3 separate regions of the Homo sapiens genome follow, and all the other regions are linked to region 2. Evidence: fine-mapped expression QTL. A gene starts in region 2. Each other region holds a variant in brackets. All regions are shown on one strand. Distances are from middle to middle. Region 1 overlaps LINC02964 (long intergenic non-protein coding RNA 2964). Region 2 holds the start of TRIB1 (tribbles pseudokinase 1). Region 3 holds the start of TRIB1AL (TRIB1 associated lncRNA).

The links. PIP is the estimated chance that this variant, and not a neighbour inherited with it, causes the effect. A credible set is the group of variants that fine-mapping cannot tell apart.
Region 1: its variant is the best candidate, but not a certain one, in a credible set for the expression of TRIB1 in thyroid (GTEx, PIP 0.62).
Region 3: its variant is the best candidate, but not a certain one, in a credible set for the expression of TRIB1 in whole blood (INTERVAL, PIP 0.86).

What each region holds. Positions count from the first base shown.
Region 1 is chr8:125,606,057-125,610,294 of GRCh38, forward strand. It overlaps LINC02964 (long intergenic non-protein coding RNA 2964), which reads left to right. Exons shown (of 7, transcript XR_001746072.2): 3 at 2,847-3,391. Among named protein-coding and RNA genes, the nearest start is that of LINC02964, 88 kb to the left of the region's middle. RefSeq lists enhancers at 42-91, 1,965-2,344. The variant G/C (reference allele first, on the strand shown) is at 2,129.
Region 2 is chr8:125,428,363-125,432,600 of GRCh38, forward strand. It overlaps TRIB1 (tribbles pseudokinase 1), which reads left to right and starts at 1,996. Exons shown (of 3, transcript NM_025195.4): 1 at 1,996-2,900. The coding sequence starts at 2,541. RefSeq lists silencers at 1,169-1,788, 2,519-2,858 and enhancers at 2,149-2,198, 3,669-3,758.
Region 3 is chr8:125,465,618-125,469,855 of GRCh38, forward strand. TRIB1AL (TRIB1 associated lncRNA) reads left to right here and starts at 1,188. Exons shown (of 4, transcript NR_186610.1): 1 at 1,188-1,416. The variant T/A (reference allele first, on the strand shown) is at 2,048.

The sequences.
Region 1 (4,238 bases), 180 kb after region 2:
AAAATATGTCCAAGAAATATATTTGGAGGTAAAATACTTTCATTTCCTTTAGGGACTGTTATCTGTCACGTGATGTTATATCAGAGTCTCAGGCTTCCCCGACCCACTTCTCTTTGACACCGGCAGAAATCTAATATCTGTATCAGGGTCCACATAGACCAATGGCATCCAGCCCTGATGTCAGGCCATCTTTAGCCTCCACTGATCACCTGCCCACATTCTGCACATCAGCCTCACTCAACTTTCTGTTTTTCTTGCAGCCCAGGCTGTTTGGCACCTCTGGGACTTTGCACGTGCTCTTTCCACTTCCTGGTTCATTCTCCCCCTGCCTTGGCATCTGACTGAATCTTCCTCCTTTGTCAGGCCTCAGCTTAGATGTCACTGCTCTGAACCTGCCCCCAGTCCCCTGGTCTGAGTTAGGTGCAGCTTGTCCTCCCACAGGAGCTGGCCCACACCTGCCACCTGACTCCTGAATGCACCAGCAACCCCTGCTGGGGCTCCAACTGCTATTCAGACGGTGCGCCTTAGGCCGGAAGGACCAGGTCTGTCTTGTGAACAATTGTATCCTCAGTGACTGGCCCCAGGCATAGGAGGTGCTTCATGTAATACTTATTGAATGAGTCAAAAAGGTGAATTAAAGAATGTTGTCATCAAGTTCATAAGTCAGCCTCAGATTACTGGTTCTGACAGTCTTGGTAATGCTTTTTAAGTTGAGGTTTCTTTAAGCTGATTGTTGAAAACGGTTTACTCATCACAGGAGTTTATTCATTTACTGGTCCAAAAAGGATAAAATCATACAAATGGCTTTGTATCCTTTTGCTATTACAATACAGAAATTCGTAGCATGGATTTTGGAGCCAGACTGTCTGCATGTGAGTTCCAACTCTGTCACTGAGAAGCTGCGTGACTTTGGGCAAACTATTTTTCTGTGCCTCAGTTTCCTCATCTTTAAGATAAGATTCTAATAAAACTTATCTAATGATGTTGTGAGGATTAAATTCGTCTGTATTTGACTAATCCCTAAACACATAGAAGCACTATATAAAATGTGTTAAATAAAGTAAATCAGGAATAAATCTCATAAACAGTGTGGTAGTCTCTTAGAAGTTAACTTCCTTTTGGAATAAAGCATTGGCATGGTTCTAGCACAAGGCAACTTCAAGGACAAAAGTGAAGTTCATTTTCAGTGTGTGCCCACCCTCTATTTCTATCCCGTTTTACTTTCTGTGGTGTTTTGTCTTGCAAAGTGTTATCTTCCTCTTCACCATCTCACAACAAATGCTTTTGGATCTGCCAAAAAGGCCAATTCATACTCTAATGTAAATGACTGATAGACTCTAATGTGCTTCTCCAAAATTATTGTCTTAACATGAAGTGTCCTGATTAGTCTGGGGAATTCAGGAGGGCAGAAACCACATACTATACATGTCAATATCCTCCTTGACCCTGGCTCTCTACACCTCTAAGTGCGGCAGACATTGGCCAGCCCTATTATCAAGTCTCCCGGGAAACAGTCAGGAGTGTGAGGGTTAGACCCATTGAACAGAATGCTGAGAACCTTGGAGACACATTGGGAAGAGAGGGGAAGAAGTGCCACCAGCACTGAATAACAACGGTTGAGTTTAAAATACAAAATCAGAATCCTGGTCAGCTTACACTGGCACTCCAAGACTATGGAGCCCTCAGATGCCACATGACCCAACCTCAAAGGAGAGCTGCGGTTTCAGACTCAGGGTGACAGCAGCCAATGATTTAGAAAGCAGAGCTCAGCGTGGGACCCATGGCAGGAGGCTGCTTGGAGTCTGTAAATGATGCCATTGTTTGAGGTTACATGCAATCAAAGAAGGAAAAACTCAGGGGTAGGCTTTGGGCTGGGGGAGCAGGGAAAAAAGAAAAACAAACCACTTAAAATTTTAGGGACATCTCCTGCCAAAAGCTTTTTTTTTTTTTTTTCAAATAAAAAAAAAAAACACCCCGATCTGAAGCCAATGAAGCAAACAGGAAAGCAGCGTCTGGGCCTGCTCTGAGGGCAGATGGCAGCCTCTTGGGTTTCAGAATGAGTTGATCATTGCGTAAACAAGGTGGCCTCTGGGCGGGGGCAGCCTGCTCTGTAAGAGCTCTTCCCCAA[G/C]GGGCACTTGGGCCCTTTAGTGTCCACATTCTTCAAGCCTGGCAGTGCCCTGCCCTGGAGTCCCTTCAAGTTCAATGTTGCTTGGCAACTTACAATGTGCTATTACGACCGTGTCTGTTATTCCCCATGATGATCCTGTGAACGTGGTGTGGATTAGTAGATCCATCTTATGGAAAGGGGTACCCTGGGTTTCAGAAAGGTAGCCTTGCTAGCTCAAGGTCAGGTGGAGAGGAAATGGCAGAGCCAAGCACAGGACACAGGCCTCTGTTTTGCCGTTTAGCTAGGCAAGTGCAACAGGAAGGAAGGGGGAGGCATGCGTGACCCTGGGGAGGGCTGAGAGCCTTAACCATAACATCACCTTGGGGTTTGTTGAGTGTCCTTGAGTAAGCACGGGCTCTGGAACAAAAGAGCATGAACTCAAGCCCCAGATCCAGATCCTCCTAGCAGGAAAGTTTCTGAGATTTCTTGGGAAACTTAACCTTGGGAAAGTTTCTGAGATTTCTGAGCCTTGGGTTCCTCATCTGTGAAATGGGGATAGTAGTAGGACCTGCCTTATAAAGATGCGGTGGGAATTCAATGAGCTAAAGCCTATGAAATGTTTAGAGCCACTTCTGGCACACCCTGAGTGTTAGCTCTTATTGCAACATCCTTTCATGTAAACTCATTTAGGGTTTTATATTTATGCTGAGAAGGATTTATTTTTGTTTTTATTTTACAGATGATGAAACAGGACACAGAGAGGTTATTTTTCCCAAATCCAGTAAAGACGCAGAGCTGGAGGTTGAACCAGGGCTTCCGATGCCAATTCTGGATTGCTCCTGGCTGTGCCATGTTGGTTCTGTATGCCAAAATTCTTGGACTTTCTTGCTATTGTTGACCCCCAGTGTCTTGCTAGATGCTGCCTGGGACCGACACTGAGCAGAATCATGACAGGAGTGTCCGTGTCCCTAGGCTTCCCTTTTTGCCCAATTGCCCTATATTGGTGGAGGCTCCAACCTGCCCTGCAAGATGCTGGGTGCTCTTCTGCATCTGACTTATTCTTCCGCTCTGATTTATGTGAACTTATTTCCAAGACGTGGTAATTAATCACCGCCTCAGCAAGGGGGATCTGGGGGGGCTGACAAAGCACTGGAGCCCCTATAGGATTCCACAAACATTGGGATAATCAATATTCCTATTGATATATTTATTCTGGATTCCCTGTGTACTTACTGGGTACTTGTTCTGAGTGCTCCTCCTGTGCCAGCTGCTGGGGATGCAATGGTGAGTCCAAGCAGACATAGCCCAGGAGCTCCTAACGTTTGGAGTCCAGCAGGGAAGACTGATAGTAATCAGAGTCACGGTCATGAATGTGCAGCTACACACTGAGATAAGTTATCTGAAGGAAGCAAATCCAGCTTTGGGGAAACTGAGTAATAAAGAAAAAAATGATCTCAACTTGGGAGTCAGGGAAGGCTTCCTCAAGCCACTTAAAAGTGATGTCTGAGTTGCGTTCTGAAAGGCAGTGACAGTGAGCTAGTGAAGTGAGGATGGAAGAGCATTCCAGGCAATGGGAACAGCGAGTGCAAAGGCCCTATGGGGGAACTGACATTTTAGTTGGGTGAGCATGCAGAGGGCAAGGGGGAAGGACATGTGAGATGGGGTTAGAGGGGCCAGGGGTCATTTTAGGAGAGCGGGGTTGAATGATAGGGGGCAGGGAATCCACTAGAGAATTCTAATTTGAAGTGGTAGGGATGAGGTATTCATATTATTTAGTTTGTATTTGTAAAAGATCCCTCTGGCTGTTGAGTTGAGACTGGATTGGAAGGAGGTTAGAGTGGTGGCAAAGAGACAAGTCAGAAGGCTATAGATGTGGGCTGGGCAAGAGCTGCCAATACGTGGGACCCAGGTAGAGGTGGTGGTGCTGGACATAGATGGATTTGTGAGCTCTTCAGGAGTTAAAATCGACTGTTTCCTGTTCCAGGTACTATAGGAACTGGAGATACAATGATGAATAGGATATAGAAACCCATCTTCAAGGGGCTTACAGTCTAACAAGAGGGAGGCAGACGTGTAACAGATACATACATACAAATACAACTGGCCGTGATGGAGGATTGTAGAAATGGCC
Region 2 (4,238 bases):
ATTATTATTATTTTTTATTTTTTGAGACTAAGTCTTGCTTTCTCCCCAAGGCTGGAGTGCAGTGGCACGATCTCGGCTCACTGCAACCTCTGTCTCCCAGGTTCAAGTGATTCTCCCACCTCAGCCTCCCCAGCAGCTGGGATTACAGGCGCGCGCCACCACACCCAGCTAATTTTTGTACTTGTAGTAGAGACGGGGTTTCACCATGTTGGCCAGATTGGTCTTGAACTCCTGACCTCAGGTGATCTGCCCACCTCAGCCTCCCAAAGTGCTGGGATTACAGGCGTGAGCCACCACGCTTGGCCTAACTTCATCCTTCTAAGGCTTCAGTTTCTTCCCTGTGAAATGGGGCAAAAAATAACCCCATAGTGTGGTTGGAAAACTGAAGTAATACATATAAAGTGCTAAGAACAGTGTCCGACACATTGTAGGCCTCGATTCATGTTAGCTATTATTATTATTTTAATTTTCACCTTCTAATTCCCAGCGTTTAGCTCTTGGTAGATGCTTAATTAGTATTTGTTGAATGAATGGAGAATTAATAAGGAAAATGATTTATTCCTGGGGCTCGACCTGGTTTTAGAAAATTAAGTATTTAGCAGAAGGACAAGTAAGGGCTCTCTAATAATAGTTATATTGTTGGGTGCCCAGGGACTCCAAACTGACCTGGTTCACTCAAGAAAGAAAAATGACAGATTCCAAGTTGTTTCACGCGCAACTTTGATGCTCTTCCAAATCACACGGAATGAATGCATGCGCACCACCAGGCAGGGCTGCCCGGGTGCAGGCGGTATCTCTGGCAGTGGCCAGAATGACTTCCACCAGCCTACCCACCTACCCAGGTTGGCACTCAGGCCCTAGACCCTGCGGCGCGTGTGGAGGCTGGGGAGGGAGTAGGAATCCGGCGGCAGCCACGTGGGCCCCTTCCGCCCGCTCCCCACATCCTTTGTTTCCCACCGGCCCTGGCTCAGGAAGCTCTTTCTGCGAGTCACCGCGAAGGGGCGGCCCGGGAGCCTGGAGAAGCTATTTCCGTGCAATCCGGGCGGGCGGCAGGCGCGGGGGGGTTGGGGGGGCGTGGAGGTGGAGGCAGCGCAGAAGGCCCAGTGTTTGCTTTTATTTCCTCCAACAGAAGGTTCTATTTGTGGAAGCGAACAGACGCTGGGGATTAGAGCTGGGAGGGGGCAGGAAAAGGGAAAAAAAAAAGCCACATCCACTACCACGCACAGGTCTTCCCCGGAACTACCGCGTGGGGGTGAATGACTGATTCTGGAATTCATCACCTCCCTATCCCCCTCCTTCCTCCGGCTGCAGCCGGGCCTCGGCGGCGCCCACGGCTCCAACCGGAGCTCCCCAGGCGCTGGGCGGTGGGGGGATCCCCGGGGCGAAAGGCGTCGCCGCGGGGCTGCAGCGAGCGGCGGGTGCAGAGAACCGTGGTGCGCGCTCCCGCCTCGCGCCCGCAGCCCATTGTGCTTACTGTGAATGAGGCGCGCGCACCAATCAGCGGTCGCTTCGCTCCCCGCAGCCCCGTCCCTCCCGCCCACTTCCCCGGGCCCTTACGTCACGGGAACTTTTCCTCCGCCCCCTCCTTCGGCTTCTCCGCTGAGCTGGGGGCCTGCGGGAGGGCGCGCGCGCCGCCTCCTGCCCAGCCCCTCCCAGCCCTGGGGGCGTGTGCGCGCGTCCAGGCCGGCCCGGGACGCACCACCTGCGCCCGAGCGCGCGCTGCCCGGAGCATCCCCAGCCCTAAGTCCACCCCCATTCCCCCCACCTCCTACTCCCTCTCCCCTTCCCCCAGTCTCCTCCCTCCGCTCCGGAGACTGCTCGCTGGGCGGCGGGGCCGGAGTCGTCGCAGCCACCTCATTGCACAACCCGGCTTCCCAACTGTTTACACAGCCCGGCCTGTGAGTGTGTGTGTATACAGCGTGAGTCACCAGGAGGCGGAGGAGGTGGAGGAAAAGGAGAAGGAGGAGTGCACTGGCCGGGATCGGTGCAGCGCTCACACTCACTCACAGTCACTCTCTCTGAGCGCGTCTCGCTCGCTCTCATACACGCCCGGAGCCCAGGAGCGCTCAGGATCCCGAGCGCCGCGAAAAAGTTCCCCCGGCTTTTGCTGGAGACTCATCGCTTTGGGAAGTGCATTTGCTTCGTGGCTCCGCCGAGCCTGCTGAATCCTGTCCTCGCGGCTCGGGACCCCGGGATCGCTGACCGCTGCCGCCGCCGCCTCTGCCTCCCGGACTATCGGCAGCCTCGGCAACAATAGTGGCGGCCGCCCCCAGCGAGGCTCCGGGAGCCCTTGCCTGCGGGGGTCCGGGGACTCGAGCCGGCCTCCGCCTCCCGGACGCACAGCCAGCGTGGTCCCCGCGTGCAACGCGAGCGCCGGGGAGTGGCTCCTGCTTTGCCCCTCGTGGGGGCCGAGCCAAGACCAGTCTGCAAACTCCATCCCGCCGGCTGGAAGAAGTCGCGGAGCCGGCACCAAACCCGCAGCGTCTTCCCGCGCGGATCCCGGGACTTAAAAAGCCGGGGCCACCCCGGCCCAGGACGGGATGCGGGTCGGTCCGGTGCGCTCTGCCATGAGCGGCGCCTCGCAGCCCCGCGGCCCGGCCCTGCTCTTCCCAGCCACCCGAGGCGTCCCGGCCAAACGCCTGCTGGACGCCGACGACGCGGCGGCTGTGGCGGCCAAGTGCCCGCGCCTCTCCGAGTGCTCCAGCCCCCCGGACTACCTCAGCCCCCCCGGCTCGCCCTGCAGCCCGCAGCCCCCGCCTGCCGCTCCGGGGGCCGGCGGAGGCTCCGGGAGCGCGCCGGGGCCCAGCCGCATCGCCGACTACCTGCTGCTGCCCCTAGCCGAGCGCGAGCATGTGTCCCGGGCGCTGTGCATCCACACTGGACGCGAGCTGCGCTGCAAGGTAGGCGCTCCCGGGCCAGGACCCGGCTGGGGTCGGGGGCGCGGGACGGGGTGGTAGGCAAAGGTGCTTGGGGTCCGGCCAACGCTTGGGCTGGGCACAGGGCGGATCAGTAGATTGGGTCAGATAAGACGCCATTTGACCAGGTTCACGTTTTTGTGGATCGAGGGGTTTCCCATGGAGTGATATAATGGGGGCGCCTAGAGGAAGTGCAGTGTTCAGTGGCTTTCTCTATCTGTTCCTTTCCTCAGCGCCCAGTGTAGCGCGTGGCGTTCCATATAAGTTGTGGAATTGAAATGGATTCCAGGGCCATGCCATTCCCCTTCTCTCATTCTCCTCGCTCTCCACCCCCCCTCCCCCGCCAATGTCCTGGAAGGACGCCCTTTAGTGGGTGCCTCCTAGGAGCTTGGAGCAGCTGGCAGCTCTCTTGCCGGGCTTGCACGGCACCCGGGCTCAGTTGTAGGTGGTAAGGGGGCTGGAAGACTGTGTCCGGCTCCTGCCTTGGGGATTCCGAATTGAATCCGCGCTGAGACTAGAACACGCCCTCCCAAGGGAGCAGTCCCAGAGTCATCCACCCGAGGCGGAGGAATCTGCTCGGAGTAGAAATGTTGAAAAGCCCACACCGGCCAGGAACCCTCGCTTCGATTCACTTTATTTTCCAGCCAGCGATTTTCCTTTGAACATAGGGATCCCATCCAGGAGGAGGAGACACAGCTCCTAGAAACAGGATCCGCCGGGTCCTCCTCCTGCGCGGGTAGACGCAGAACGTTCCCACAGTCTACTTTATGCGAGCGTGGCACCCCTGCTTGAGGCACCCCAGAGCACCCTCGGGCCGCTCCTTTTCACCCGAAAGATAGGATCACCCCCCAGTTAAGTCGCTTCTGGGTTTTCCGCAACTCACCTGACACTCCCAACACCCCGACCCCGTCCCGGGGCTCGCTGCTGCCACCTACTGCCCAACCCGAATGAAATTTCAGACGCATGATCAAGCCCAGTTTAATAGGGAGGAAAAAAAAACCTTTTCTTCTCCATGACTGGGGCTAAGAGCTGTTCTGGGACAAGCATGTATGTGTGTGTGGTGGGATGGGATGGGATGGGGTGGGAGGAGGGGGCAGCAGGGGATTTTTCTAGCTGGTGCCAGAGCAGCCAGGCCTCTTAGAGGTGGGGTGAGTCTGGCCATTGTGCAACCCCTTCCAGTTCCTCTGAGCAGATAATAGCTGAATCCAGATGGTGACAGCCCGTGTGTCACCGTTTCCAGTTGAGTCTAGGATATGAGTAACTGGACTGAACAAAAGGCCTTTAAAGAGACCAGCCAGCTTCCTAGAAGAGAGGAGATGCTAC
Region 3 (4,238 bases), 37 kb after region 2:
CAATGCAGATTCTTCTGACTGCAAGACCAAACTGTTGACTGCTAGCCTGTTTTCCCCTTGACTAACTGTGTGTCTTGGGGCCTCTTTCTGGGCATCAGTTTCCCAGTCTCAGTAAAGCGTTCTGAATTTTCCTTGCTGGGGTGGTGAAAGGCTTGGTTGAGAGCCTGTGTGAACCTCACGGTGCCATATTAACAGTCGCGAGAATGTAATTGATTCTATGATGTTGTGGTTCACTGGAAACTTGGCAGGGGTGGAGTAGGACCCTGAAGAAAGCTGGCACTATGTCAAGTGGCCAACGGGAGCTCAGCCCTTCCTGTTCTCTCTGAGTATTTGTAGCTCTTTAGTATTTCCTGTGCTCAGCCCCATTCAGAGATCACCAAGTCAAACACCTAAAATCCAGGGTCCCTGTGTTTGAGGAAGTTTGCATTCTAAGATATTTCTTCCCAGGCTGGTACCCTAGAATGTCATCGTTCCATAGGCTGCCTTTGTCATCATTTATGAAATTTGTCAACTCTTGGTCCAGAGGTCTGATTAGGAGGAAAAGAAGAAAGTCATGTGAGGCCAGGTGCAGTGGCTCATGCCTGTAATCCTAGCACTTTGGGAGGCCAAGGCGGGCAGATCACCTGAGGTCAGGAGTTCAAGACCAACCTGGCCAACATAGTGAAACCCCATCTCTACTAAAAATACAAAAATTAGTGGAGCGTGGTGGCAGGTGCCTGTAATCCCAGCTACTTGGGAGACTGAGGCAGGAGAATCGCTGAAGCTGAGGTGTGGCAGCTTCAGCATTTGGCTCCATTATTCCCTCAGGCATGAAATCTTCCTCTCTAGCCTTGTTTAAATCTCAACACTTCCCTTTCCAAATGATTTCTAAGGGGAAACATAAAAAGAATGTTCCAGAATACTCTGTTGGCCCAGGGGTGATTTGCCAGAGCAGTTTCCTGGATTACGGCCTCTTCCCCCATCAGCAAATCATGTGAAACAAACTACTGTCAGCTGTAAACCCTGAATGTGGGAAAAAGAGCTGACACACAGGGCCCACTTTCGTAAAGCTGACATTTCTCATGAATAGCGAATTCCTGAGTGTGGGCAGTAGACCAAGGCCAGGAATTCTCATTAGCTGGTGATAATCAGGCATGACTTGGACTGTGGAAGGCAGCTGGGCGGAGAGGTCATAGGTATGGGCAGGGGTGAGCCACAGCTGATAGCTGGGCGCGATCTGCCTGGATTGTTACTGAAATACTAACATGCTCTTTATGGGTTAGTAACTCCCTTCACCTCCCCAACGGCTCCTACCCGCTGGGACCTTCACCTCCCCATGATCCAACAGTGAAAGATTTAATACCCACATGACAAGGGCCTTCCAGACATGGTCCAGCTGGGGTCTGATGCTGATTTGGATAGATCCATGGCAAACTGGTGAGTAAATATGTTAAATGCCTCTCCTGGCTGTGGGACGACAGTTCCCTCCTTGGGCCCCAGCCTCCTTCCTGCTTCTGAGACCACGGCCTCTGATCTCACCTCTTTAGAGCTGAAGGACATCTAGGACATGAGCTCAGCTGATTGTTTCCCATTCAGTGGCTCAATCCCACCCCTTTCACATTCAACCTCCCTGAAGTCAGCATTCACTGTTTTTTTGTTTGTTTGGCCTTTTTTTTTTTTAAATCCTTATCTCTGTAGCATTTCCTCACTTTCCTAAACAGAGTTAGTCACTTCCTTCTGTGTGTTCTCATAATACTTACAAGCCATATCTCTATGATCCAATTTTATGAACACTGTTATTTTCTTTTTCATACGTATGAAAGATTGTGAATATTTCTTTTCCTTTTTTTTGCTTTGGCTTCTGGGAAGCTCAGAGCCCAATTTGTAGTTTCCCTCAATTAAGCAATCGATGTAGGCTTTGTGAATTCACTTTGTCTCTGGCTTCATGTTAAGTTCAGCCTTTCTTTCCTCCATTTCTTTATTAATATATATTTGTATTATATTCATCTCTGTGATTCATCTCAAATGCTAAAATTATTTTTTGCATTGTCTTATTAATTAATTAATT[T/A]ATTTATTTATTTGAGACGGAGTCTTGCTCTGTCGCCCAGGCTGGATTGCAGTGGCGCGATCTCGGCTCACTGCAACCTCCGCCTCCTGGGTTCAAGTGATTCCCCTGCCTCAGCCTTCCGAGCAGCTGGGACTACAGGCATGTGCCACCACGCCCAGCTAATTTTTTGTATTTTTTAGTAGAGACGGGGTTTCACCATGTTGGCCAGGATGATCTCCATCTCCTGACCTCATGATCCACCATTCTCGGCCTCCCAAAGTGTTGGGATTACAGGCGTGAGCCACTGCACCCGGCCCTTGCATCGTCTTCTTTAATGAAGTATAATTTTCAAAAATAAAATGCATCAATTTCACATATACAGTTTGATGTGTGTACCCATGTAACCACCACCATAATGCCATAGGATACATTTCTATCACTTCAAATTTCCCTTGTATCCTTTCTCAGTCAATTCACCACCCTACCCTGATCTCAGGTGCCACTAATCTGTTTTCGGCTACTACATATTAGATTTACCTGCTTCTACAGTTTCATAGAAATGGAAGCCTACGTATGTGATCTTTGGAGATGCATCCAAAGACATGGATGCATTATGCCAAGTGATATTTTTGAGATGCACCCATGTTTTTGTGTATACTAGCATCTTTTGAGATGCACTCATGTTTTTGTGTATATTCGCATCTTCTGAGATGCATCCATGTGTTTGTGTATACCAGCAAATGGTTCCTTTTTATTTCTGAGTAACATTCCACTGTATGGAGACATCACAATTTGCTTCTCCATTCACCTGCTGATGGACATGTGAATGATTTCCAGTTCTGGGCTGTTTTGAGTAAGTAAAATCAGGAGAGTGTAGCAGGTGTTGGGCAAACAACAAACATGTCTGCTAGTGTGAAATTCACCGGCAATGCCTTAGCATGGTGTCTAGCACACAGGGGTGCCTAAGAAATGGATAGTCGGGTTGATTTTAACAGCTCCCTGGGTCGGGGAGACAGGGTTGGACCTTGAATCACAGAAACATGAATTTCAGTCCCAGCTGTGCCATTTCCAGCTGTATGATCTTGAGTAAGCCACTGAACTTTTCTAAACCTCAGTTTCCCCCAATTCTGTAGAAGGGGACTAATTGTTCCCAAATGAACACAACTGTCAGTGAAAGCACTTTGCAAAGGATTAAGACAAATATTAGGCAAAACTACTGTGACCATGGAATTTCAAAAGACTAGAATTTCTCTTCAGATCTTGAATTCTCTGCTCTTCCTTACTGCTACCCTCAATGGCTGATGAGGACTCCCACATTTTAGGGAAGAATTGAGATCACGTCCAAGCTCCTACTTGGACTTCATCCTCACCTCCTTCTGAGCCTCCCATGGCCAAATGCAGTGATTCCCCAACTCCCCTGTACCCCGCCCTGCCCTTAGCACATTTCTAGACCCTGGAACTTTGGGTGAAATCCCATTTATCACACCGATCTCCCTTGGCCACCTCCTAGCACTGTGTCACAGTGTCAGCAGGGCTGTTCACTTCTCTGCCCTTGCTCTCTATCACTCATGAGTCAAAGTTCTCCGAGCACATTCCGTGTTGGTGGCCCCCTGTGAAGGGTTTCACCAAACACCACTGTGGGCTGGGCGCTGGCTTCCATCCACTGACCCAGTGCAGCTCCTGGCTTCTGACTTCTTTCTGTTCCTCTCTGGACTTATTTTCTCCCACTCCTTCCTGTGACTGTTTAATATACCAAGATGTTCCCTGTCTTGATGCTATCACTTGACTCCACTGGCTTTGGCTTTTTACTGTACTTCCTTTTTTTTCCCTTCATTTGTAATGCATTCATCCACCTGCATCAACGTGGCTTTGTTCTCCACCACTTCTCAGCAATAACTGACCTCCCAAAGGCCAAGCACCCCAGCATGGCTAGGTCTTCTCTTCCTGATGCTCCTCATGGCTTCCATATTTTCCCTGAGACTCCTTGGGGCCCCCAAGTCACCTCCCCTCCCTTCTCTTCCTCCAGCCATTTCTTTTCATCTTCTTTAGCTGTCACCTCATCTTCAATGCTGGGCTCTGTCACCCAGGCTGGAGTGCAGTGGCATGATCATGGCTCACTGCAGCCTTGACTTCCCGGGCTCAAGCGATTCTCCTACTTCAGCCTCCTGAGTAGCTGGGACCCCAAGCACACATCAACACACCTGGCTAATTT